Linked DNA regions of Homo sapiens: region 2 is linked to region 1. The links come from fine-mapping of genetic effects on gene expression. A gene starts in region 1. The other region holds a variant in brackets. All regions are shown on one strand. Distances are between the middles of the regions.

What was found. PIP is the estimated chance that this variant, and not a neighbour inherited with it, causes the effect.
Region 2: its variant is fine-mapped to the expression of PLAC9 in whole blood (GTEx, PIP 0.94).

Annotation. Positions count from the first base shown.
Region 1 is chr10:80,127,210-80,139,480 of GRCh38, reverse strand. PLAC9 (placenta associated 9) reads right to left here and starts at 6,751. Exons shown (of 4, transcript NM_001012973.3): 1 at 6,655-6,751. The coding sequence starts at 6,718.
Region 2 is chr10:80,149,962-80,162,232 of GRCh38, reverse strand. ANXA11 (annexin A11) reads left to right here. Exons shown (of 16, transcript NM_145868.2): 12 at 205-298; 13 at 3,038-3,133; 14 at 4,208-4,266; 15 at 4,470-4,592; 16 at 6,321-11,344. The coding sequence ends at 6,380. Among named protein-coding and RNA genes, the nearest start is that of PLAC9, 23 kb to the right of the region's middle. RefSeq lists enhancers at 3,213-3,754, 2,852-4,051. The variant G/T (reference allele first, on the strand shown) is at 6,804.

The DNA.
Region 1 (12,271 bases):
CTGGATGGAGCTGAAACCTAGGAGTCTGCAGGATGGATGTGGTGGAGGCAAGGGGCCAAGGAACTGAGATTTGGCCAGAGGTTTAGGAGAGGAGGCCTGGAATCCAGCTGGGATGAGGAAGGAAATGAGGCCAAGAAGAGGGCCAATGAATTGGGAGAAATGGGGGCTGAAGAGACTGGAGGTCTTAGGAATCACAGGAGGAACAAGAGGTAAAGAATGTTGCAATTTTAGCCAGGCGCGGTGGCTCACGCCTGTAATCCCAGCACTTTGGGAGGCCGAGGCGGGCAGATCATGAGGTCAGGAGATCGAGACCATCCTGGCTAACACGGTGAAACCCCGTCTCTACTAAAAATACAAAAAAATTAGCCGGGCGTGGCGGTGGGCACCTGTAGTCCCAGCTACTAGGGAGGCTGAGGCAGGAGAATGGCGTGAACCCGGGAGGCAGAGCTTGCAGTGAGTGGAGATCGCGCCACTGCACTCCAGCCTGGGTGACAGAGCTAGACTCCGTCTCAAAAAAAAAAAAAAAAAAGGAATATTGCAATTTAACTTTTAGAGGTCGAGCAGCTTCAGAGAGTGACAATATTAAGGCTGTGGCCATGGATGCGGGCATCCAAAGCTCAATAGGGGGAGTTATGGAACTTGATCTCTCTACGTGCAATGCTTGTAGCTGTAAGGCCTTGGTATTGGATGGGTTGGCCAAGGGGCCATCTGCAGTTGTCTAGAAGTGGGGCAGGTCTTGAGGTAGGACAGAGCTGATGATGGATGTGTAACTCTGAGAGGCTGAGTGATTTCCCCAAGGTCACACCATCTGCAAATGCCTGGACCTCAGGCACCCTGACCTCCTGTTCTCATCTCAGCAAGGTGGGGACCCCCTGCCCTGTGATTTTCTGATTCCAACTCTATCTAGCTCTCAGCACTTCCACTCAGAGATGAGAACAGGACCAGAGACAAAATGTCCTTCCACTCTGAGCATCTTTTGTGGAGAACAATCTGTTTTCCAAATTATCCTTTTCATTATTTCCCTCCACTGAACTTAGAAAATACTCTTCAAAAGATAATGGTGTTATTGCTGAATCTGGGGAGGGAGGAGGACATTATAATGGCCCTTTGGTTATTTTTTTAATGCAAGTATTTTAAAGACCTATACTGAAATATTTACAGATGAAAGGCTGTGCTGTCTTGGATTTACTTCCAAAGTAAATAATCCAGGCCTCAGTGGGGATGGTGGAGAGGCATGCGTGGATGTTTAGAGCAAACAGGATGGGCTGAGAGTTGCTGATTGTTGAAGCTGGGTGATGAGCAAATGGGGGTGCATTCAGCGATTCTGTCTACTGTTGTGTGCACGATTTGAAATGTTCCATAACAAAAGCTGGCTGTCTGACGAGGTTGTCAGCAGAAAGCAGCAGCCATTGTGGGCTGCAGGCATTCATGTAAAATATTCAGAGAGAGAGAGGCCCCTGGGGGCTATGCTCCATCCTGGCCCCACATCCTGAGAAGGCCCTTGAGAGGCAGGAGCAGGTCTAGAGGAGGCTATGGGAAGGGACTCCTCTTTTTTTTTTTTTTTTTTAGACAGGGTCTCACTCTGTCACCCAGGCTGAAGTGCAGTGGCACAATCATGGCTCACTGCAACCTCTTCTTCCCGGGTTCAAGCAATTCTCCCACCTCAGCCTCCAGAGTAGCTGGGACTACAGGCACACACTACCATGCCTGGCTACGTTTTGTATTTTTTGTAGAGATAGGATTTCACTACGTTGCCCAGGCTAAGCTCAAACCCCTGGGCTTAAGTGATCCGCCTGTCTCGGCCTCCCAAAGTGCTGGGATTATAGGAGTGAACAACCGCACCCAGTCTGGGACTCCAAATTTTAACTCAATTCTCTCAGCTGAAACTGGGCTGCTCAGCTTGGAGAGGAAAAGCTCTGAGGGGGCCTCTGTTGTCACCCACAGAGTGGCCGTCCTAGGGGAGGGCCTGTTGTCATGAGTCTGTGGATACACATACCCCCCTGCTGGCTCTGTCCAGAGGCCTTTGGCCAAGCCTTTTCTCTGAGGCTCACCTGCCCTCTCCCAGACCCTAGCCACTCTCCCGTGTAAGGCTCAGGCCAGGGGGATGCAGTGTGACCCTGCCAGCCAAATGGGAGTCTGGCTGCTTTGGAAGTCAGAACAACCAGAGCCTGCTCCCCTCCACTGGCCTAAACCACCCTGTTCTCTACGTGTCTGTGATGAGGTCTAACTTGGCTCCAAAACCCCTCCAGGGAAAAGGCTGGGCTGAGGTCGCTCCCAACATGGCTCAGCACTAATCCTTCACATCTGGACAAAACTGTGCTTTGTGCACCCTGGAGCAACTGTCCGTGAGCTCATCGGGGCCTCCACAGAGTGCATCTGAGAGAGCAAGCTTGGAGCAGGGCCTGACATTGTACTGCCAGCATCCTCACCACAGCGCTGACTTGAACGCATCATGGTAGAAAACATGCTGGAGACCCCTTTTCTCAGCCTGGTTCAGCCACTAATGATTGTGGGATTGTGAGAAAGTTTCTTCTGCTCCCTGAGCCTCTGCTGCCTCTTACATAAAATGGGGTAGGGTAGGCCTGAGGCCCTGACTCCCCCGTGTAGCGCATCCTTAATTCTTCTGTCTTTTGGAGGCTGCAGAGAGGCCTCAAGAATTAGCTAGACGAGCTGGGCTCGGTGGTTCACACCTGTAATCCCAGAGCTTTAGGAGGCTGAGGCAAGAGGATCGCTTGAAGCCAGAAGTTTGAGGTCACTCTGGGCAACATAGTGAGACTCTGTCTCTACAAAAATAAATAAATAAATAAATAAATAAATAAATAAAATAAAAATTAAAAAAAAATTAGCCAGGATTGGTGGTATATACTTGTAGTCTCAGGTATTTGGAAAGCTGAGGCGGGAGAATCGCTTGAGCCCAGGAGTTTGAGACTACAGTCAGCTACGATTGCACCACTGCACTGCAGCCAGGGTGACAGTGAAAGACTGTGTCTTGTAAGAAAATAAATAAATGAATAAAAAATAGTAGACACGCACATGCACCACAGGGCTGTCAGTGGCTCAGACAAGGGGAGTGGAAAAGACTGAAGGATTATGATGATTAACCCTGAGCAGCCAAGGCTGTGGCTCCTCAGGGCTCCCTTCCTTCCTTTCCTCCCGCTCTCCCAGGCCCTGCCAGTTGGGAAATGGACCTCCTTGGATGCTGCGTTGTTTTCTCTGGCCCGGCTCCTGCTAGGGGCCTGATGTGCACCCTGGATGGTGGCCATGGGTGGGGCATCCTGTGCTGGTGAGAACACGCTGCTGTGGAGCCCGGAGGCCCCAGAGGAGGGCTCGGCTGGGCTGGCTGCCCCAGTTAAAGAGACGTGGCCCCTGGGTCCCATCCTCTGAGGCGGAAGTACGGGTGCTTCTACTTACAGGCCTTATGGGGAGACCTTTTGTATCTGGACCCAAACAGTAAGAAAGGGCCACAACACAGATGATTTCTGCATGCTGGGGGTTGAGAAATGTTTTCTCAGTGGCATCTGAAAGGTGCCGCTGTATCTTCTGAATTGTCAAAGTCACACTCTGCTTTGAAAAGCAACCCTGGCCACTTGGGGGTTAATTATATTTGACCACATTCAACATAATAGAATAATAAATTTACCACATCCAATATTTGTATTAAAATGTATGATTCACTCAAAACCATCCACGGGTTTTGATCATTTTTGAAAGCAGCAGAAAACTATTCTTCAAGTGATTTTATAAAAAACTCCAAAATATGGGCCGGGCGTGGTGGCTCATGGTCTAAAAAGCCATCAGGGATAAAGGTTTCTCTGAGTGCTGCTAAAAGAAACCAAGACTTGGGCCCAGCGCGGTGGCTCATGCCTGTAATCCCAGCACTTTGGGAGGCCGGGGCAGGCTGATCACTTGATGTCAGGAGTTTGAGACCAGCCTAGCCAACATGGTGAAACTCCCCCGCAGCCCCCGTCTCTACTAAAAAATGCAAAAATTAGCTGGGTGTGGTGGTGCACACCTGTAATCCCAGCTACTTGGGAGACTGAGGCACGAGAATTGCTTGAACCCAGGAGGCAGAGGTTGTGATGAGCTGAGATCGCACCACTGCACTCCAGCCTGGATGACAAAACAAGACTCTGTCTCAAAAAAAAAAAAAAAAAAAAAAGGCCGGGCGCAGTGGCTCACACCTGTAATCCCAGCACTTTGGGAGGCCGAGGCGGGCAAATCACAAGGTCAGGAGATCGAGACCATCCTGGCTAACACAGTGAAACCTCATGTCTACTAAAAATACAAAAAAAATTTAGCCGGGCATGGTTGCAGCCGTCCGTAGTCCCAGCTGCTTGGGAGGCTGAGGCAGGAGAATGGTGTGAACCCGGGAGGCGGAGCTTGCAGTGAGCGGAGATCGCACCACTGCACTCCAGCCTGGGAGACAGAGCGAGACTCCATCTCAAATAAATAAATAAATAAATAAACAAACAAACAAACCAAGGTTGGAAGTTGGACGTGCTAGAGATAGCTCTCAATTTATAGAAAATATAAGGGGTGGAGGTATTTAAATGACATAAAAGGGATGCAATTAGCAAAATCTAAATGTGGAAAACTTTACAGGACAAACTTAGTTTCTTCAACAAAAACAAAAAATTAAGTAAAAAAAGGGGAGAGAAGACTTACATATTTAAAGAGATCTAACAGACATATTGACCAAATGCAGTGTATGTAACCTTATTTGGATCAAACAAATGAATTGCAAAAAGATATGACACAATCAATCAAGGACATTTGAACAGTGATTGAATATTTAATGATATTCAATCACACACAGTTTTTGGAGTATGATCATAGCATTGCAGTTATGTTTATTAAGAGTGCTTATCTCTTAGAGGTACACAAAGAAATATTTATAGATGAAAATACATGATGCCAGGCCAGGCATTGTGGCTCACACCTGTAATCCCAGCACTTTGGGAGGCCAAGGCAGGTGGATCACTTGAGCCCAGGAGTTCGAGACCAGCCTGGCCAACATGGTGAAACCCTATCTCTACTAAAAATACCAAAATTAGTCAGGTGTGGTGGTGCGTGCCTGTAGTCCCAGCTACTCAGGAGGCTGAGGCAGGAGAATCAGTTGAACCCGGGAGACGGAGGTTGCAGTGAGCTGAGATTGTGCCACTGCATTCTAGCATGGGTGACAGAATGAAATCCTGTCTCAAAAAAAAAAAAAAAAGAAAGAAAGAAAGAAAGAAAATATACAATGCCTGGATTTCCTTTAAAATAATCCAGGGAGGGGAGAGAGGGTGGAGGCTATAGATGAGATAAAACTGCCCATGAACTGATACTTCTTGAAGCAGCGTTGATAAGTATATTACATGATTCTTTCACATACTATTACTTTGTATTTTTTTGTATCCAAAAGTTTTCATAATCAAAAGTTAAGATATATCATCTAAAATCTGAAAGATTATGCACAAAAATATATGAAATCAGTGTGAAATTACACTAATACATGAATACTTTCCTCCTTTCCTTCTTCTTTTTTTTTTTTTTTTGAAACTGAGTCTTGCTCTGTCACCCAGGCTGGATTGCGGTGGCTTGATCTCGGCTCACTGCAACCTCCGCCTCCCAGGTTCAAGTGATTCTCCTGCCTCAGCCTGCCGAGTAGCTGGGACTACAGGCATGTGCCACCACGCCCGATTAATTTTTTGTATTTTTAATAGAGACAGCATTTCACCATGTTAGCGAGGCTGGTCTTGATCTCCTGAGCTTGTGATCCGCCCGCCTGAGGGGTAGGTGAGGGGAAGAAAGCGGACAGTGAAAAGCAAGGAACCCAGCTAATGGAGTACCCAGACAGCCTCTCTCCTCCGCACAGCTCTCCACCTCCACCCAGTCCCCCATCTCCACCCAACATAGCTCAGTTTCCCAGAGAAGCTCCCTGGAAACCGGGAGGCTGACTTCTTCACTGACTGCAGATCCACCTGAGGCCACCTGGCAGGTGAATCGGTGGCCTTTCTCCTGGGCCCGACTGCCTGGTTCCTTAAGGCTGTGCTGGGCTAGCCTGGGTCACTCATCCTTTGGAGTGTGGCTTCTTATGCAATGTCCTATAAAGCCAGGCCTGAGCCTCCACAGGCCCTCTGAGATGGAGCTGGCCTCCGGGGCTGCCCCACCCAGCAGCTGTGACCTCCCACTCCAGATCCTGGCTCCTTCTCTCTTGCCAGCTCTACTCCGGGCATCGAGCTTCCCTCTCTCTCCTTTTTGGTCTCTCTCAAATCTTTCTCTTTTCTTCAATATCCTCTCTCCCTCCACCCCTTGCCATTTTAATCACTTTTTCTCTTTCCTTCTTCTCTTTTGTCTCTCAAACTCCTTTTTCTTTCTATCTTAGTTCATATCTGTTCAGGGGAAGCCTCTTTCTGTCTCAGCCTCTCCTTTTTCCTTTTCACTGTGTATTCTTCCCTATCTCCTTTATCTCTCCGTTGCTCTACTTCTCTGCCTTTTTCTGAGTCTGTTTCCTCTCAATCTTTCTCTCCATCCCTCCCTCCCTGCATCTGCCTCTCTGTCCATCTCGCTGCTGTGTCCAGCTCTCTCTCCGTCTCTCTCGCTCATTCCTTCCTCGCCATCTGCGGGTCTCCCCGGCTCCAGGTCCCCTGCCGCGCCCTGCGCCCCACTCACCGGCCAAAGAGCCCGCGGCGCGGAGCAGGGCCAGTCCGGTCAGCGCGCAGAGCAGGGGCCGCATGGTGCCGGCCTGGCCGAGCGCAGCGCCGCGTCTGCCCGCAGCCGCCCTTCCCGGATCGCACCCGGCCGGCCCGAGAGGAAATGCACTCAGTTCGAGCCAAAATTCCTGGGCGGCTCCGGACTTTCTGGCTCGAGAGAACCCGCCCCCTCCAGAGGCCCCTCGGCACCCCGTGGGCAGCGCGGAGCCCAGAGACCCCGGGAGCTGAGGCACCGACGTGCCACCTGGGCGCCTCCCGAGGAAGGGGCCGCCCCCCGAGTCCCCGCACCTCCTGGGAGCCCGGGAGGGAAGGCGGGGCGGGGGGCATTGGGTGAGGTCTTGGGCTCAAGGCGACCGAGCCTGGGGTCAGGGGTTTGTTACGAGCCAGTTTCACAGGCGGGCAGACTAAGACTCGGAGGGAAGTGTCTTCCTCGGCATCACTCTCAGCCATAGCACAGGATCTGAACCCCTGTCTCCTGGGAGTTTGGCAGCTTTTCTCTGTCTACCTACGAACAAGAAATTAATTCTAATTACATGGAACAGTGTCTGCCCCTAAGAGGGAGACCCAGAAACTCACTGCTCTGGTAAGGGAGTGATAGAAATATGAAAAGGTAATTTTAAAAAGAAAAGGTAAAATCGTAACTCTCGCAAAGATATGAAATTAGCATATACTAAAGATTTTATTCAATTCATTATTAATGAGGGGATAAGTAAGATGGTACAAGCAGCCCAAAGTTTAGAGCACAGTAGTGGAAACTTCCCCTATGGGACATGCCCATCCAACAAGTGCAACAACAAATTAAGTTTTAGTAAAAACACAAAGCAAAAAAGCTGTAGCTCTAACTTCTCTGCTGCAGAGCCCTGAGTGAGTGTCTCGTCTGGCTGTAAGTGGAACACATTCATCACCAAGCCTGGGAGAATGCCTTTGTCCATCAAGGGTCCCCGTTGGGATTACCTGGAGCTCTTGCAGATCAAGGCTGCCTCTCTGCCTTCTGTGTTCCTGGCTGTGGCTATGCAATTGTCCAAAACAGTTACCACGCTAACCAGTGATCCAGTTCTCACTCCCTCCTCCAGAGCAAGATAGTAGCCTCAGACGGAGAAATTCTGGTTCTGAGCCCGAGAATCTGAGACAGACTCAGATCTAAATCTTTTAAAAGCCTTCAAGGAGATTATGATGCCCACATGAGCTGGCTCAGAAGAAGAATTTATTTCAGGAATGCCAAAAATTTCTCACGCTTGGTGGTAGGACATTCCTTGATAGTTTCGCCAGGTGGGAAAAAAAGTTGTCAAAGAACTGCCCAACTCATAAGGATTCTTGTAGCTTAGAGCCAGTGGGCTACCTTATATTTTGAATTTAAGACTAAGAAAACACACACACACACAAAAACATATACAATACATTATTGTTGCGGTAGAGCATAAAGTAATTAAGTATACAGAGTAAAACATGAAAGTCTTTTCTGTTACGAATTCCCTCCGTCCAATGATTCAGGTCCAGTCCCCTCAACTTGGTAGGCTCTGCCTGTTCCACGTCTATGCATTCCCCATCTACCTAATGTATATTCAGACACAAATGTATATACATGAGATCAAGTCATAGATATTTTGAAGATTTGCTTTCATTCATGTTTATCTCAGTCATAACATTAAATCTTGGCTGGGTGCAGTGGCTCACGCCTGTAATCCCAGCACTTTGGTAGGCCGAGGTGGGTGGATCACCTGAGGCCAGGAGTTTGAGACCAACCTGGCCAACGTGGTGAAACTCCGTCTCTGCTAAAAATACAAAAAATTAGCAGGGCGTGGTGTTGGGCGCCTGTAGTCCCAGCTACTCAGGAGGCTGAGGCAGGAGAATCAGAACCCAGGAGGCGGAAGTGGCAGTGAGCCAAGATTGCACCACTGCACTCCAGCCTGGGCAACAGAGCAAGACTCCATCTTAAAATAAAAGAAAATAATCTTGGAGATCAGTCTATGTGGGTACAGATAAATCCACTTCATTCCTTTTAAGAGTTAAAATATCCCATGAATGGATACAAGGAGCATTATTTATCCAAACAGTCCCCTATTGACAGACATGTAGATTGCTTCCTTTTTCTCTCCAATATAAAATAAGCTTTAATAAACATTCCTTTGCATATATCTTCATGTACGTAGTACATATTCCTGTATGTACATATTTCTGAAAGGCTGGAAGAGGAATCATTGCGTCAAAGGCCTTTTACATTTTGCCAGATAGGCCAAAAACTGTTCCCCAAATTGTTACTAAGCCCACAGGAGGGGCAAGGGGTCTTCCAGCGCTGTTCCAAGGTGCACCTGAGCATGTTAGTCTAGGTAGGAATTGGGCTGCAGGGGGCGCCATTTACATAAAATACTTCTGCGCTGGGCGCGGCGGCTCACGCCTGTAATCCCAGCACTTTGGGAGGCCGAGGCGGGTGGATCACGAGGTCAGGAGATTGAGACCATCCTGGCTAACATGGTGAAACCCCGTCTCTACTAAAAACACAAAAAATTAGCCGGGCGTGGTGGCGGGCGCCTGTAGTCCCAACTACTCGGGAGGCTGAGGCAGGAGAATGGCATGAACCCGGGAGGCGGAGCTTGCCGTGAGCCGAGATTGCGCCACTGCACTCCTGCAGTGTCACCCACTGCACTGGGTGACAGAGTGAGACTCCGTCTCAAAAACAAAACAGAACAAAAAAACAAAAAAAACCCTTCTGGATTGGAGATACCTGAAGTGTAAACCTATCAGTCACCTACATTCTCCAACACTGGATATTTATTATTTAAAATTTTGACAGCTTGATGATGGAAAATGTTACCTTGTTGTTATTGTTATTTACATGCTACTTGTTATGAGTGAGGTTAAGCTTTATTTGCTTCTTCGATTACTTTTTTCTATTTTCCTCCCTTTCCTTTATATACTCTGATTATTAATGCAATGCCTGTTATATATGTTGGCAATGTCTTCTTCCAGCCTTCCATTATATTTAAGTTTCTTGGTGGTGTCTTTCATCATTCAGAAGTTTTAAATATTAGGTAGCCAAATCTCTCAATATTTTCTTTTCTTTTTTTTTTTTTTTTTTTTTCTTTTTTGAGACGGAGTCCCTCTCTTTCGCCCAGGCCGGACTGCAGTGGCGTTATCTCGGCTCACTGCAACTTCCGCCCTCCTGGGTTCACGCCATTCTCCTGCCTCAGCCTCCCGAGTAGCTGGGACTACAGGCGCCCGCCACCGCGCCCGGCTAATTTTTTGTATTTTTTGTATTTTTTGTAGAGACGGGGTTTCACCGTGTTAGCCAGGATGGTCTTAATCTCCTGACCTCGTGATCCGCCCGCCTCGGCCTCCCAATATTTTCTTTTATGGCTTATAGAGTTTACAACTTGCTTATGATTCCTCGAATCAAGGCTGTAAAGATATTTTTCTATGTTTCCTTCAAACAGTTTTAAGGTTTTCTCAAGGTCTAATGTCTAATCCATCTAGAATTTTTATGTGGTTGCAAGGAAGGAATCAAACTTAAATTTTTCCCTAAATGGGTATCTAAATGTCCTAATGCTCTTTATTGCCTAGTCCATCCTTTTACCACTACTTTGAACATAAAGTAGTTGGCTAGCTACTCATTTCCGAGGGGAGTTCTGGGAAAATCTCTCTACATCATGTCTGTCACAAGGTCAAGGAAACAAAAATGCAAAACAGACATATAATTTCAATAAATACTGAAACCATATTTGATGAAATTAAACAGGCCTCCCTAACTTAAAAACAGTAATAACAACAAACTTAGGATAAAAATAAAGGAAATAATGGGACATTTCCTTAACAAGATAACTACCTTTAATTTTTATATTTATAGTTTTTCAAATTAAAAAAATAATAAAAATAGAGACGAGGGGTCTTGCTGTGTTGCCCAGGCTGGTCTTGAGCACCTGGGCTCAAGTAATCCTCCCGCCTCAGCTTCCCAAAGTGCTGGGATTACAGGAATGAGCCACCATGCCCCGCCAACTACTTTTATCTTAAATAGTTCATCTGTACATAACAGAGAAAGGAGAAATGTATTCTTTATTAAATCAGGAATGAGGTAAAGATGCCATTATTGGCCAGGCATGGTGGCTCATGCCTATAATCCCAGCACTTTGGGAGGCCAAGGTGGGAGGATCACTTGAGCCCAGGAGTTTGAAACCAACCTTGGGAACACAGCATGATCCCATCTCTACTAAAAATTAAAAAAAACACACACACATTAGCGGGGCGTTGTGGCACACACCTATTACTGGGGAGGCTGAAGCAGGAAGATCGCTTAAGCCTAGTAGTTTGAGGCTGCAGTGAGCTATAATCACACCACTGCACCCCAGCCTGGGTGACAGAGTGAGACACTGTTCTAAAAAATAAATAAATAATTTAAAAACTTAAAATTAAATTAAAAATTTAAAAAATAAAAAAAGATGCCACTATCAACAAGTGTTTGGCTGGGTGCAGTGGCTCATGCCTGTTAATCCCAGCACTTTGGGAGGCAGAGGCAGGTGGATCACTTGAGGTCAGGAGTTCGAGACCAGCCTGGCCAACATGGAGAAACCCTGTCTCCACTAAAAATACAAAAATTAGCCAGGCGTGGTAGCACACGCCTATAATCCCAGCTACTAGGGAGGCTCAGGCAGGAGAATTGCTTGAACCCAGGGGGCGGAGGTTTCAGTGAGCCGAGATCGTGCCACTGCACTCCAGCCTGGGCGACAGAGTGAGAATTTGTCTCAAAAAAAAAAAAAAAATTAAGATAAGTGTTTGGAAATCAATTTATTTCTGTATACCAACAGAAACTGGCCCAAACATGTAAAGGGAAACTCCTGGGCAAAATGATAGTATGGAGCCAGTGGACCCAGTTGACAAACCTCCTCCTTCCAATATTCTTGAAAGTGACCAGTGAAATTAAAGATAGGGGAGACCGGCATCAGTGGCAGGAACTAGAGAAATATGCCAACCATATACCAGGCCTCAAAGCAAGGTGGGTAGCCAGCTGGATCTAGTCATACCTCTTATTATTTATTATTATTCTATTATTTGCTAAACTTCTCTGAACCTGGTATTGTGCTAAGGCTGTATATGCATTACCCTATTTAATCCTTGCATCAGTAAACCTATCAAGTAGATATCCTTATCCCCATTTAAAAAAATAAGATCTATTAAGTATATCTGATTCAAGAGTAGAGGGTGGCAGATCCCAGTTTGGAAGCTAGGTGGATCCGATTCCAAAATTCATGGTCCTCTGCATGATCAGGCCTCTTGACTCTGAAGTCCCAGGAAAGGCACTAAATAGAGAATCTGAAGAGTGGAGGTGAGAAAGGGATGAATGGGATATGGGGGGCGCAGAGTGGCAAGCCCTGTGCAGTTAGGGGAGAACGCTCATAACCACCTGCATGAATGAAGTGCCCTAATGTGCAGACGTTTCTCTTTCACTTAATGCTCCCATGACCCTGGCAGATACCGTCACAATCTGCGTGGACTGTGAGGCTACCTGCCAGGGTCATGGGAGCATACAGAATGTAAGGCTTGGAGAAGTTAGGAGGTGGGCCCAGGGCACACAGAGACTAGTTAGG
Region 2 (12,271 bases), 23 kb before region 1:
AGCCCCTGATTGCTGCTTTCTGCTCTTTTTCAGGGCTGCTACCTGAGGCCTAGCAGGCACTTTAGAGGCCATCTAGTTCAGAGGTTGCAAATTGGCAAATACTTTAGGCTCAAACCTTCAGAAGTTTACCAGGCTCTCCTGGGTGACCTGGGCCTGGGGTCTGGGTGTGGCCTGTGCCACATGTGCGTCTTCCTCTCTCTCCAGGAGCTGTATGCGGCCGGGGAGAACCGCCTGGGAACAGACGAGTCCAAGTTCAATGCGGTTCTGTGCTCCCGGAGCCGGGCCCACCTGGTAGCAGGTAAGGCAGGCTGGGGTCCCTCAGAGGCCAGTTAGATGAGGGCAGTCAGGGGATTGTGGGGAAACAAAGCTATGGGAACACTTGGTCGTTCCTCCCTGCGTGGGGCTTTCGCCTCCTCAAAAGAGCCCCCTGGTGGGAATTTAAAAGACACTGTCAGAGGGTTTCCTGAGTTCTGGCAAACATCCAGTTCTGGAGGTTCTACCGGTGTAGAAACCTGGTGTCTTTGTACGTGGGAATGTGGAACGTCAGAGTTGGGAGGGTCCTTCGGGAGCACCCAATCCAGTGTTTTCCAAAGCCTGGCATAAGAAACAGTCATAACAATAAAACTGGGTGCCATTCATTTACTCATTCATTCAACAGATGTAAATCGCGCTCCCGCATGGGTCAGTCTGTCAGGTGGTGGAGCAGGTGTGGGGCCACGGTGGGGGGCAGGGCACTGCAGAGTGTGTTCCATGGGCTGCACTTTCTCATTTGGGGAGACAGACAGTAAACAACAATGAAATAAAATCTGTATCAGATGGGAAATCCTGTAGAGGAAAATCAAGCTGGAAACAGGTAGGGAGTGATGGTAGGGTCCACCGGGAGGTGCTTGGGCCAGTCCCCACTGAGGTCGTGACATTTGATTTAAAAACCTAAAGGGAGATGCAGGGGCAGAGGCCTGCCTGGGGCTCCCAGCACGACTGAGAACAGTGAAGGGGGACCATGTGGAGCAGGTGGAGTGAGCAAGAGGAGTGGGAGGTGAGGGCAGAGAGGGGAGAGGGCCCTGCTGATGACTTCCCGGAGCTGGGTATTTATCCTGAGCAAAAGAGGAAGCCAGTGGAGGGCCCTGAGCAGAGGAGGCTGTGCAGAATCCCTGGCTGTGGTGCCGAGAATGGAGTGAAGGGTGCAAGGCCAAGCAGCGAAGCCTGTCGGGAGGCTGCTGCAGGGACCCGGGGAGGAATGGTGGTAATAGGGGCTTGTGGTGAGGAGGTGTCAGGTTCCGGCCATGTTTGCTGATGAATTGGACACGTGACGTGTGGGAGAGAGAGGGTTCGAGGATTATACAGGGTTTCTTTAGGCCAAGCAGTGGGAGAATGGCCCTCAACTGAGACAGGGGGACTGTAGGTGGAGCTGGCTTTAGGTGCCTGTAGGGTGGAGCTGCAGGGAGGCTGCTGGGTTGCTGAGTGTGGAGGTCAGGAGAGGTCTGGCCTGGTTGTGGAAGGTAAGGGAGCTATGGGTAGTTGAAGTTATCTGAGGCTCTGGGACTGCAGGAGGTCCCCTCAGGAGGGAGACTGTGGGGAGCCCACCGGTGTGAGGAGACTAAGAAGGAGCAGCTAGGGAGGGAGGAGGACGCAGAGGAAGGGGGTCCTGGAGGCCAGTGTGAGGTGGCAGGCAAGGACTGAGGATGGTGACCACACGGAGCAACTGGTGGGCTGTGGCCAGGGCTGCTCCAGTGGGCAGTGAGGGTGAAAACCCAGCGACCGCTCTGTGCTGCACACAGAGACAGGCGCTGTGGCTCTCCCCATTCGCAGCTGTGAAAGCAGGCACAGGGTGGTAGAGGAAGTAGGGGTGCACAGCTAGTAACAGCTGAGCTGGGATTTGAACCCAGACCACCCGACCCCAGAGCACACTTTTTAACCTCTGCACTATCCTGTAATGGAGCCTGAGTGAAAGCATTTTCATCTTAATCATTATTTCTTTTAATGAGTACAGAACATGTAAGTAGTGCATCAAGCCCATGGCTTCACAAACATTATTACTTAGGAGAAAAGAGTAGCTGATTGGAAGAAGATATTAATTGAGACAGATACACACAGAGCAGAAATCACAACTTTAAAATGCAAATGGTAGCTGAGACTCAGGCTGGGGAAGGAGAGTTTTATGTCCTGGGTCAGAACTGGAGTCAGGACCAAGGTCTCCATCATGCCACCTGTCTCTCTAGGAGCCAGCCATCCACTCCTGTGGGTGCTTAGCGTGTCCTAGGTCGAGGTGAGCAGCAAGAAGCCAGGCTGGCTGGGGCAGGCTGGGCCTCAGCTCACAGGCAGGCTGAGGAAGACAGATGGATGCATGAATAAAGCCAAGGAATGGCAGAGACTGGAGGTGTGGAGGATTTGAGAAGAGGGGACACTGTCTTGGAGTACATGGGAGTGGGCCCTGGAGGGGTATTAAGGTGCGATTTGGTTAAGCAGATTGGCAGTCCTGAGAAAGGGACCACACAGGGAGGGACATCAGGTGGTGCATGTAACTTGTGACGAAGACTCTGACTTCCTTGAGCGCTAGCAGGCCTGGGGACGTGCAGGGTGTGGGAGCAGAGTGGCAGGTGGGAGATTTTGGGGCAGAGGCCACCTCATGTGAGTCCTCTGTTAGTCTGCTCATGCTGCCATGACAAAATACCACAGACTGGGTGGCTTAAGCAGCAGATACTCATTTTGTTACAGTTTTGAAGGCCAGATATCCAAGAGTGGGGTGCCGGTTTCTCCCGTGGCCTCTTCGTGACAATCACTGTGCTCACATGGTCTTTCCTCTGCATGTGCACATCCCTGGGATCTCTGTGTGTGTCCTAATCTTCTCTTCTTCTAAGGAGACCAGGCGAATTGGATTAGGGTACACCCTAGCAGCATGTTTTAACTTAATTACCTCTTTAAAGATCTTATCTCCAAACACGGTTATATTCTGAAGTCCTGGGAGTTGGGACTTCCACATATGAACTTTGGGGAGACACATTTCAGTTCATAATATAAGCCTCTGTCATCCCCATAGTTTTCAATGAGTACCAGAGAATGACAGGCCGGGACATTGAGAAGAGCATCTGCCGGGAGATGTCCGGGGACCTGGAGGAGGGCATGCTGGCCGTGGGTAAGTGTCTCAGGTTTGCCGCCCACCTGCCAGGGGCTAACGTGTATCGTGAGTGTTCAGGCTGCTCGCCTGTCCTCCAGCTGATGGGTGACACCGTGAAGGGACCACAGGATCCAAGATCGCTCAGCCCAGAGTGTCCAGATGCTGGGAAGTCATGCTGCTTCCCGGTTCCCTGTGCAGTTGAACCCCTAGCTGTCCTGGAGGTGTCTTGTGTGTGTTTGCGGTGCAGCTCTGGAGTAGGGAACTGCAGTGTGGGTATTAGTGGGAGGGCATCCAACTGCGCTCCCGGAGGAGTATGACTCATATCCTGCCACGTTTCCTCTAAAAATACATCCCTGCAGGCAGTTGTCAGATGTTTGTGATGGAAACACGTGGAAAGATTTTTACTTGCAGCAGCGAAACAGGCCCATGCTGAGGAAAGCTGGCTTGGCTCCAGGATGGTGGTGTGCCTCTTACATTGCCCATGTCCTCTAGCAGGGCCCTCCCACTGTGCAGAGTTGGGTCCCTGCCCTGAGGCCCTCACAACCCCTCTTTCTACTCACTTGGGAAAATCAGTCTGCCCCTTTTTTCATTATGCTTTTTTTGGAGCTTTCTGGATGGGAGAGATGGAAAATCCTCATTTCCCTGCCTGTCCCCCATAGTAGGTCTCATGGCCTGGGAAGCCTAGGGAGATGCACATTCCACTCAGCCACGGTTTCTCCATGACGGTCATGGCCTCTCCAGTCTGCCCCTCCTGCCTGAGCAGCAGCACAGTTCCTCATCACCATCCACATTGCTTCCCTGTGTAGCTCCTAGCCCCACTAAGACCCCCGCCCCTCTGACTCTTGGTCCTTTCACCGCAGTGGTTGCCAGGAAAGAGGGTGGGTTGGTTTCCAGGCTTTGCGTGTTTCTGTTCCAAATAGCTGGAGCCAAGATCATGGGATAGTTGAGCCTGGAACAGAAGGAGGAGGAGAAAAGATGGATGCAGTGATGGGTTTGACATCTGGGCCTCTAAGAGGACACTTGTAGACTCCATGCCCTGCTTGGGCTGAGAATTTTCTGCAGATCTGGTTATGCCGAGTTTCTCTCTTCTAGTGAAATGTCTCAAGAATACCCCAGCCTTCTTTGCGGAGAGGCTCAACAAGGCCATGAGGGTATGTAACTTCCATGTGCAGGTTGCGATGGAACCTTAGCCTCGCCTGTGCCTGGGACCAAGGGCTGAGGGCAGAAGGCCTGGGGAGAGCTAAATCTCAGCTGAGAGTTCCGAGGACCTGGGTAGGGAGGGGACTGGAGGGCCCAGGGCAGGTGGGAAGGTGAGGAGGCCTGGTGCTCATGCTCTTGGGTGGACTCTCTTTAGGGGGCAGGAACAAAGGACCGGACCCTGATTCGCATCATGGTGTCTCGCAGCGAGACCGACCTCCTGGACATCAGATCAGAGTATAAGCGGATGTACGGCAAGTCGCTGTACCACGACATCTCGGTACGGGCCTGCTGCAGGCCAACTGGGCTCCCTTTTGGCATCTCAGTCACCTGTGGAACCTCCCTCCTTGGAGTGGCCATATGCTTGGCCTCTGTGCTGTGTGTGGGCATCTTGATTATGGACCTCGGACTTGTTCATCCCCTTGCCCTTAAACAGATTATAAATTTCTGAGGGCAGGTGGATCATGACCTTGCTGTCGCCCCCACCTTGCATCCCCCAGCAGCATCAGAGAACACTCGGGACCTCCCCAACCTTGACCGTGACCTTCAGCGTTCCGATCACCGTGTGATTCCTTGATCTGTCAGTGAGAACTCATGTCCCAAAGGCTCTGTGGAGCTCTGCTGTCACTCCCTGACAAAGCACTTCCTGCACTCAGCTTTATGGCGTAGGCCACATAGTAAGGCCGTTCAGAGCGAGGGCCCTGGGGGTCACGCCACTTGGAGTCCAGCTTTTCTACTTGCTAACTGTGTGACCTTGAATGGCTCCCTTAAATCTCCCTGAACCCCAGCTCCATTGTCTTTAAGATGAGAAAATAATCGTTCCTTCCTGGGAATGTTGTGAGTATTGAGTGAGGCAGTGCAGGTCAAGTGTCTATTAAACACTAGCCACAGTTGTATCGCTGTGTGGCAGAGCCAGTCTGACAAAATACATTCTCAGCTGTGTGGTCTAACGCTCAAATTCTGAACTCACATGAGCCTTGCAATTGCACCATGGGGACCACGTCCTCCCACCTTAGACTCAGTAGCATTTGATGATGGTGGGCATGTCATCACAGGAAACTCACTGTGTTTCCTTGGCTGTATGAATGAAGCTGTTGTTAGAGAATTAGTGATTCTAGGCTGGGCACAGTGGCTCACGCCTGTAATCCCAGCACTTTGGGAGGCTGAGGCAGGTGGATCATTTGAGGTCAGGAGTTCGAGACCAGCCTGGCCAACAAGGTAAAACCCTGTCTCTACTAAAAATACAAAATTAGCTGGGCTTGCCTGTAATCCCAGCTAATTAGGTAGGCTGCGGCAGGAGAATTGCTTGAACCCGGGAGACAGAGGTTGCAGTGAGCTGGGATCACGCCATTCCACTTCAGTCTTGGTGACAGAGTGAGACTTCGTCTCAAAAAAAAAAAGAGAGTTAATAATTCATTACAGAGTATCTCCTGCATGCCAGCAAGCTATGGACATCTGGAAGAAGCCACATGCCTTGCCCTCAAGTTGCTTAGGGTGGAAGGAAATGATTAGAAATGAGCCAAGCCGAGCCTGCACTCTTAGAGTAAGTGTAGTGGCCTCAGACAGAGGAGAGATCCCTGGGACCTGGGCAGTCTGAGCCTTCCACTGGACAGTCATGTGTGAGGAGATTGCATTTCCTGAGCAGGACACTGTGTTGCGTTACATTGGTAACCCCAATTTAAGGCAGCATAAATGCACTGGGAAAACAGCAATATTGGTTAGCCCTGGGAAGTGGTTTTTAGGATGATTATAATTTTTTTTTGTGGGTATTCATTTGATGTGGATAGCTGGGGTGAGTGCTGCTTTCCGTCTTCTGATGGGGGCCTGGAGAAGGCTGAACTGCATTTTTTAAGGTCTGTGACGCCTGCTGCAGGACCTGCAGTGGGAGAAAATTCCCCAGGGTGGGGCTTTCTCCCTATAAGGGTGCTCAGGGCTGAATATCAGGACCCAGAAGGCTGAAAGTGACTGTCCCTCCCTTAACGGATGTCTTCCTTGTTTCTGTGGCCAGGGAGATACTTCAGGGGATTACCGGAAGATTCTGCTGAAGATCTGTGGTGGCAATGACTGAACAGTGACTGGTGGCTCACTTCTGCCCACCTGCCGGCAACACCAGTGCCAGGAAAAGGCCAAAAGAATGTCTGTTTCTAACAAATCCACAAATAGCCCCGAGATTCACCGTCCTAGAGCTTAGGCCTGTCTTCCACCCCTCCTGACCCGTATAGTGTGCCACAGGACCTGGGTCGGTCTAGAACTCTCTCAGGATGCCTTTTCTACCCCATCCCTCACAGCCTCTTGCTGCTAAAATAGATGTTTCATTTTTCTGACTCATGCAATCATTCCCCTTTGCCTGTGGCTAAGACTTGGCTTCATTTCGTCATGTAATTGTATATTTTTATTTGGAGGCATATTTTCTTTTCTTACAGTCATTGCCAGACAGAGGCATACAAGTCTGTTTGCTGCATACACATTTCTGGTGAGGGCGACTGGGTGG[G/T]TGAAGCACCGTGTCCTCGCTGAGGAGAGAAAGGGAGGCGTGCCTGAGAAGGTAGCCTGTGCATCTGGTGAGTGTGTCACGAGCTTTGTTACTGCCAAACTCACTCCTTTTTAGAAAAAACAAAAAAAAAGGGCCAGAAAGTCATTCCTTCCATCTTCCTTGCAGAAACCACGAGAACAAAGCCAGTTCCCTGTCAGTGACAGGGCTTCTTGTAATTTGTGGTATGTGCCTTAAACCTGAATGTCTGTAGCCAAAACTTGTTTCCACATTAAGAGTCAGCCAGCTCTGGAATGGTCTGGAAATGTCTTCCTGGTACCAACTTGTTTTCTTCTGCTTGATTCTGCCCTGTGGCTCAGAGGTCTGGCCTTATCAGCCAGTGAAAGTTCATGTAACCTTACGTAGAGATTTGTGTGCAGGAAACCCTGAGCATACACTAGTTTGCAGGGACTCGTAAGGACATGGGAAGGGAGGTTCCCGAAATCCAGGCAGGAGGCCCAGACACCTGAAAGGCAAAGGGATCTTGGTTGGTTGCAGGTGCAGTGAAGTCCACTGAAGGTGTGGTGCGAAGAATGCAGTCCTTCACCCAGGTCCCAGGAGGGAAGAAGGGTGTGTGCTAATTCCTGGTGCCCCTCGGCGGGGGCCAGAGAGAAGGATGGGGACAACCCAGAGAGTCACAAGACCAGTGCCTCCCCTCAGGGTGCCTCCAGGCTGAAAGGGGCTCCTGGCTCTGGTCTCTGGGGACCCTGTGCCCGTTGGTTGGTGGTGTGAGGGAAGAGAATCCATAAGAGAGTTTCTGAGAATTATGGTGTCATGTCCAGAAGCTAGAGCTTACCTTGCATCAGGGGTCTCCACCCACTCCTTTTCCAACCTCCTGCGTTGAGGTTTAGAAAAGAGAGAATCGACTAGGCACTATGGCTCACGCCTGTAATCCAAGGACTTTGGGAAGCTGAGGTGAGAGGATCACTTGAGCTCAGGAGTTCAAGACTAGCCTAGCCAACAGCGAGACCCCTGTCTCTACTAAAAAATTTGGCCAGGCGTGGTGGCTCACGGCTGTAATCCCAGCACTTTGGGAGGTGAGGCGGGCAGATCACCTGAGGTCAGGAGTTCGAGACCCAGCCTGGCCAACATGGTGAAACCCCATCTCTACTAAAAATACAAAAATTAGCCAGGCATGGTGGCACATTCCTGTAATCCCAGCTACACAGGATGCTGAGGCAGGAGAATCACTTGAACCCAGGAGGCAGAGGTTGTAGTGAGCTGAGATCACACCATTGCACTTCAACCTGGGTGGACAGAGTGAGACTCTGTCTCAAAAAAAAAAAAAAATTTACCTGGCATTGTAGTGCATTCCCTATAGTCGGCTACTCTGGAGGCTGAGGCAGGAAGATCCTTAGAGCCCAAGAAATTGAGGCCGTAGTAAGCTGTGATTACACCACTGCACTCCAGCCTGGACAACAGAGCGAGACCTTGTCTCAAATGAGAAAAAAACAAAAAGAAATGGGAGAATCCAGAGAGACTAGGCTAGATCAAGCCTGCTGGGTCCTGGCAGGAGCCCCAGGGAGTAGCTCATCTGCAGACATTTGCTTGAGGACTACCCCCTAAACATAAAGGAAGAATGACATCCGAAGGGTGTGGAGCAGCCATGAGCTGAGAACTAGCCTGGTCTACCTGAGATTGATGGCAGGTCCTGGTCAACACGTCAGCTCTGCGTCAGAGTCCATGCCTCAAGCCCAAGCTGAAGCCCCATCCCTGCTGCTCTCCCAAGAACTCCTCTGCTAGGGCAGGCCCCTTGCCCTTGGGTGCCAGGTGGGACCTGCCTGATGGGATGGGGTGCTTGGCATATACAACTTGCCATGAACTCAAGGTGACCCTGGGGGCCTCCTGAATTGTGATGGGGCCTAGAACCAATGTGCTCTGATGTGACCATATTCTGTGACATTACCTTGCCCTGTTTACTCCAAAGTTCCCAGCCTGGTGCCCAGCAGGCAATATTGCACCTACAGACACATTTACTTTGGTTTCCAAAGTGTTTTTAGACATTTGAATTTGTTGCCAACATTTAAACATTGAGAGATTTCATATTTTTAAAAATCTGGAATTCTGGCTTCTCTTGAAAACTCAGAAATTCTGGCACTATGGGGCTTGCATTCCTGCATGGCTGGAGCTGAGTTGCAGCTGCCCCTTTAGGCCTGTACTCCTTATTTGCTATAGGCTCCGTCTTGTATTACACTAAGCCCATGTCACCCATTTGGCTCCTGCAGGCCTTTGGGTTTGAGACCCTGGTCTACACACTTGGAGACCACCTGTTGTAAAGTACATGGATGTGCTTTGGTCAAGGAATAGACCAAGGTGGATATCCAGGCCAGAGTGACTCAGCGAGTTTAGGTCACAGGCGTATACTCCACTTGTTATATAACCTGCTTGTGTAAGTTCATACTTGGCTCAAAGCCACTATTGTTTGGAAAAGGTATAACTGCCCTGCTGACGCTGTACAGATGTTCTTGGGCTCGGATGGGCATGGCTCCACGTGGTGTGCACTAGCACCCAGAGAGAGTGAAGCTATTGACCCCTGTAAGGGAGAGTGACCATCTGGCAGATAGATAGAGGGGAGCCAGGACATGGCTCAGCTTGTGCCCAGAGGGAGAGTTAAGCCGCTGACCCTGTAGCCAGGGAGTGCACCTGCAAGCATGGGGGTGGCAGGAGCCACAGAGCTGGCTGCTGAGAGGAGCTGCAGATCTGGAGAAGACAGCCTAGGTAAAGGTGGACAGTGTGAGAGCTGCTGATGAGATAGCTGCTGAATAAAACTACATTTTACCTGCCTATGGCCCGCCAGGTTTTCTTTCAGCTATCGCCCATCCACCCAGTCCCCTCGAACCTCAGCATGGGCTGGAACCTGACCCTGGGCATGACATTTGGCATAGTTGTGGACCTGACACCTGTGTTTGTCCTAGTCCTGTTTCTCCCTGCCTTCCTGTTCCTCTCGCTGCCCTCATGGTCACTCCCAAGAGATCCAACCCATGTTAAGTATGGGCTGGAGGACTGCATGAATGCCTCATGATCTTCCCAGAGGCAAAGGCACCTACTGCCTTCCAAGGTCAGTGGGAGGTTGGGATCAACACTGTTTATTATGCTTAGGACAAAAAAGATAGGGAGAAAGATGTGCAACCTTACAGGTCATCTTTCTGGGATAGAACACAATGGGTCTTCTCCTGCCTCCTGGATATGTTAGTCAAGGCCAGTCCATGCTACACATCTAGTCTGACTTCTAAAATAGAAGCACCAGATGAATTCAGCCCTGAGAGAATTTTCAGCAGCTGTGGGGGCGCTGGAGGAAACACTATTAAATAGTTTTGCACCTGAGACAGATAGCCTCACTCGCCTCACCCTAGTCCTGGTGGCATTTGTCTCAGGTGCAAAATTTAAGAAAGAAACCTTGGAGTGCTCACCCTGTGGCTGGGTAGATGGTCCTAAAGTGGTGGTTTTCAAGCCTGAGTGTGTATCAGGATCATCAGGGGAGCTTGCTAAAGAGCAGTTCCTGCGGTCAGACCCTCATGCATTTTGAGCAGGTGTGGGGACTGGGAAACTGCATCTGTAACCTGCTGTAATCTAACGCTTATCTAAATACTACTGTGCTCACACAGAGAACACCGCAAAAGTAGAGGTGTTCCTCCAGAGGGCAGGTGAGCAGATGGCACAGTCTGCTTGGAATTCAGTCAGGTGATGAGAGATGAGATGAGGCACTCCTAGCTTTGGGAAGAGGGAGCTGAAAGATGAACCTTTGCAGGTGCCCACGGTCAAAGTGGTGGTTTAATGCCATGCCATGCCCATTTTCTGTTGGCCTTGGCAGGGAGTTACAGCCCTACCTTAGGACCTGGCTCCTTATTTCTGCTGTAGGCTCTTTCCTGCCCTGGCCGAGATGGAGTGGAATGAGACCTAGAAACATCAAGCTAAATACATGTCCTCAGAAAGATAAAGGTTTACATTTTCACCCCCATCAAATCTGAAAGCTCTCTGCCTGTGTTTTTCTAAGGGATAGGGACATCATTACTCAGTCCACAACCTGGACTCATGTAGGGTCCCCTGTCAGTAAAGGAGTCAGTCAAGCCCACCAGGTATACCAAGGACTCTTACCCTCAGCCCCTACTCCTTGGAAAGCTGCCCCTTGGCCTAATATTGGTGTTTAGCTTGAGCCTGACTCCTTCTCAACACTAAGAGCTGATGAAGTCCTGAAGCAGAAAGAGCTCTGACCTGAGAGTCAAACATCCTTATTCTGATCTCAGCTCAGCCCCTGATTTGTTGTGTGACCCTGGATATGTCACTTCCTGTCTTTTTGACTTTTTAAAATGAAGGGTAGACTAGAGGAGAGCTTCTAAAACTTTAATGTGGTCAACGAAATGGAATAGGAAATTCCACAAGTCTGTCCTTCCACAAAAGCAGCAAATAAGGTGGCAAAAACTCAAATTTATGGGAACTCTGGAAACGAATTGAAAGTTTACAGCAATCAGGTGAATACCTAAGAATAAAAGCTGGATTTAGTAAGAGAGCTTTGTTGTGTTTTAGCTTACCCTGGCCCCATCCCCCACTCCCCAGCATGGCAGCAGCATCAAAAACAATATCCCTCATTCCCTGTATAGGTTCCTGTCACTGGAGGTAGCAGATTAGACCTTATTTTCAAGAAGTATGTTGATTTTGATTTGATTTGTTGCTCCCTGAAGGACTGGTTCAAATGCCTTTCTTTTATTTTGCCTAATTTGGAGCTCTCCTAAAGTGAAGATGGCAGCCTGGAAAGACGTTTCAAGGTCAGTGTATTAGTGGCTCATGCCTAGGGGAAGGAATAACATTTGGAGCAAACAGGAGACAAATTGAAAAGCTTCAGGAGGAAAGGCTAGGAAATAAGATTCTTTGGGTGAGAATAAGGACTTTAAAGAGATTCCACATATTCCTGGGAATCTGAAAGACCATACACATGCCTAGGGCTGGGCATGTGCTTAAAAAGACTTGAGAGGGCCCTATGCTGTCACCTCTGCCTGACCTTCAGGCTCCGTGCAAGCAGGAAGTGAAGGCTAAGGCATAGTTATAAACTGCATGGGTGAAGGTTGAAAGGTGTGTCCCAACACAGAACACATCTGCAAATGCTACGAGGCATTTTGTTGTTCCAAGTGTTCAAAGAAATCTTTTGAATCACTAGCTGACCACTAAGCTAACCAAAGACTTAGTGGCCACACCTGACAAAGAATACAAACTAAAAAACTAAAAATGTAGTTCAAGAAAATAACAGGCTGGGCACAGTGGCTCACATCGGTAATCCCAGCACTTTGGGAGGCTGAGGCAGGTGGATCACTTGAACCCAGGACTTTGAGACCAGCCTGGGCAACATGGCAAAACCCCATCTCTGCAAAAAATACTAAAAATTTGCAGGGCCTGGTGGCACACACTTATAGTCCCAGCTGCCCAGGAGGCTGAGGTGG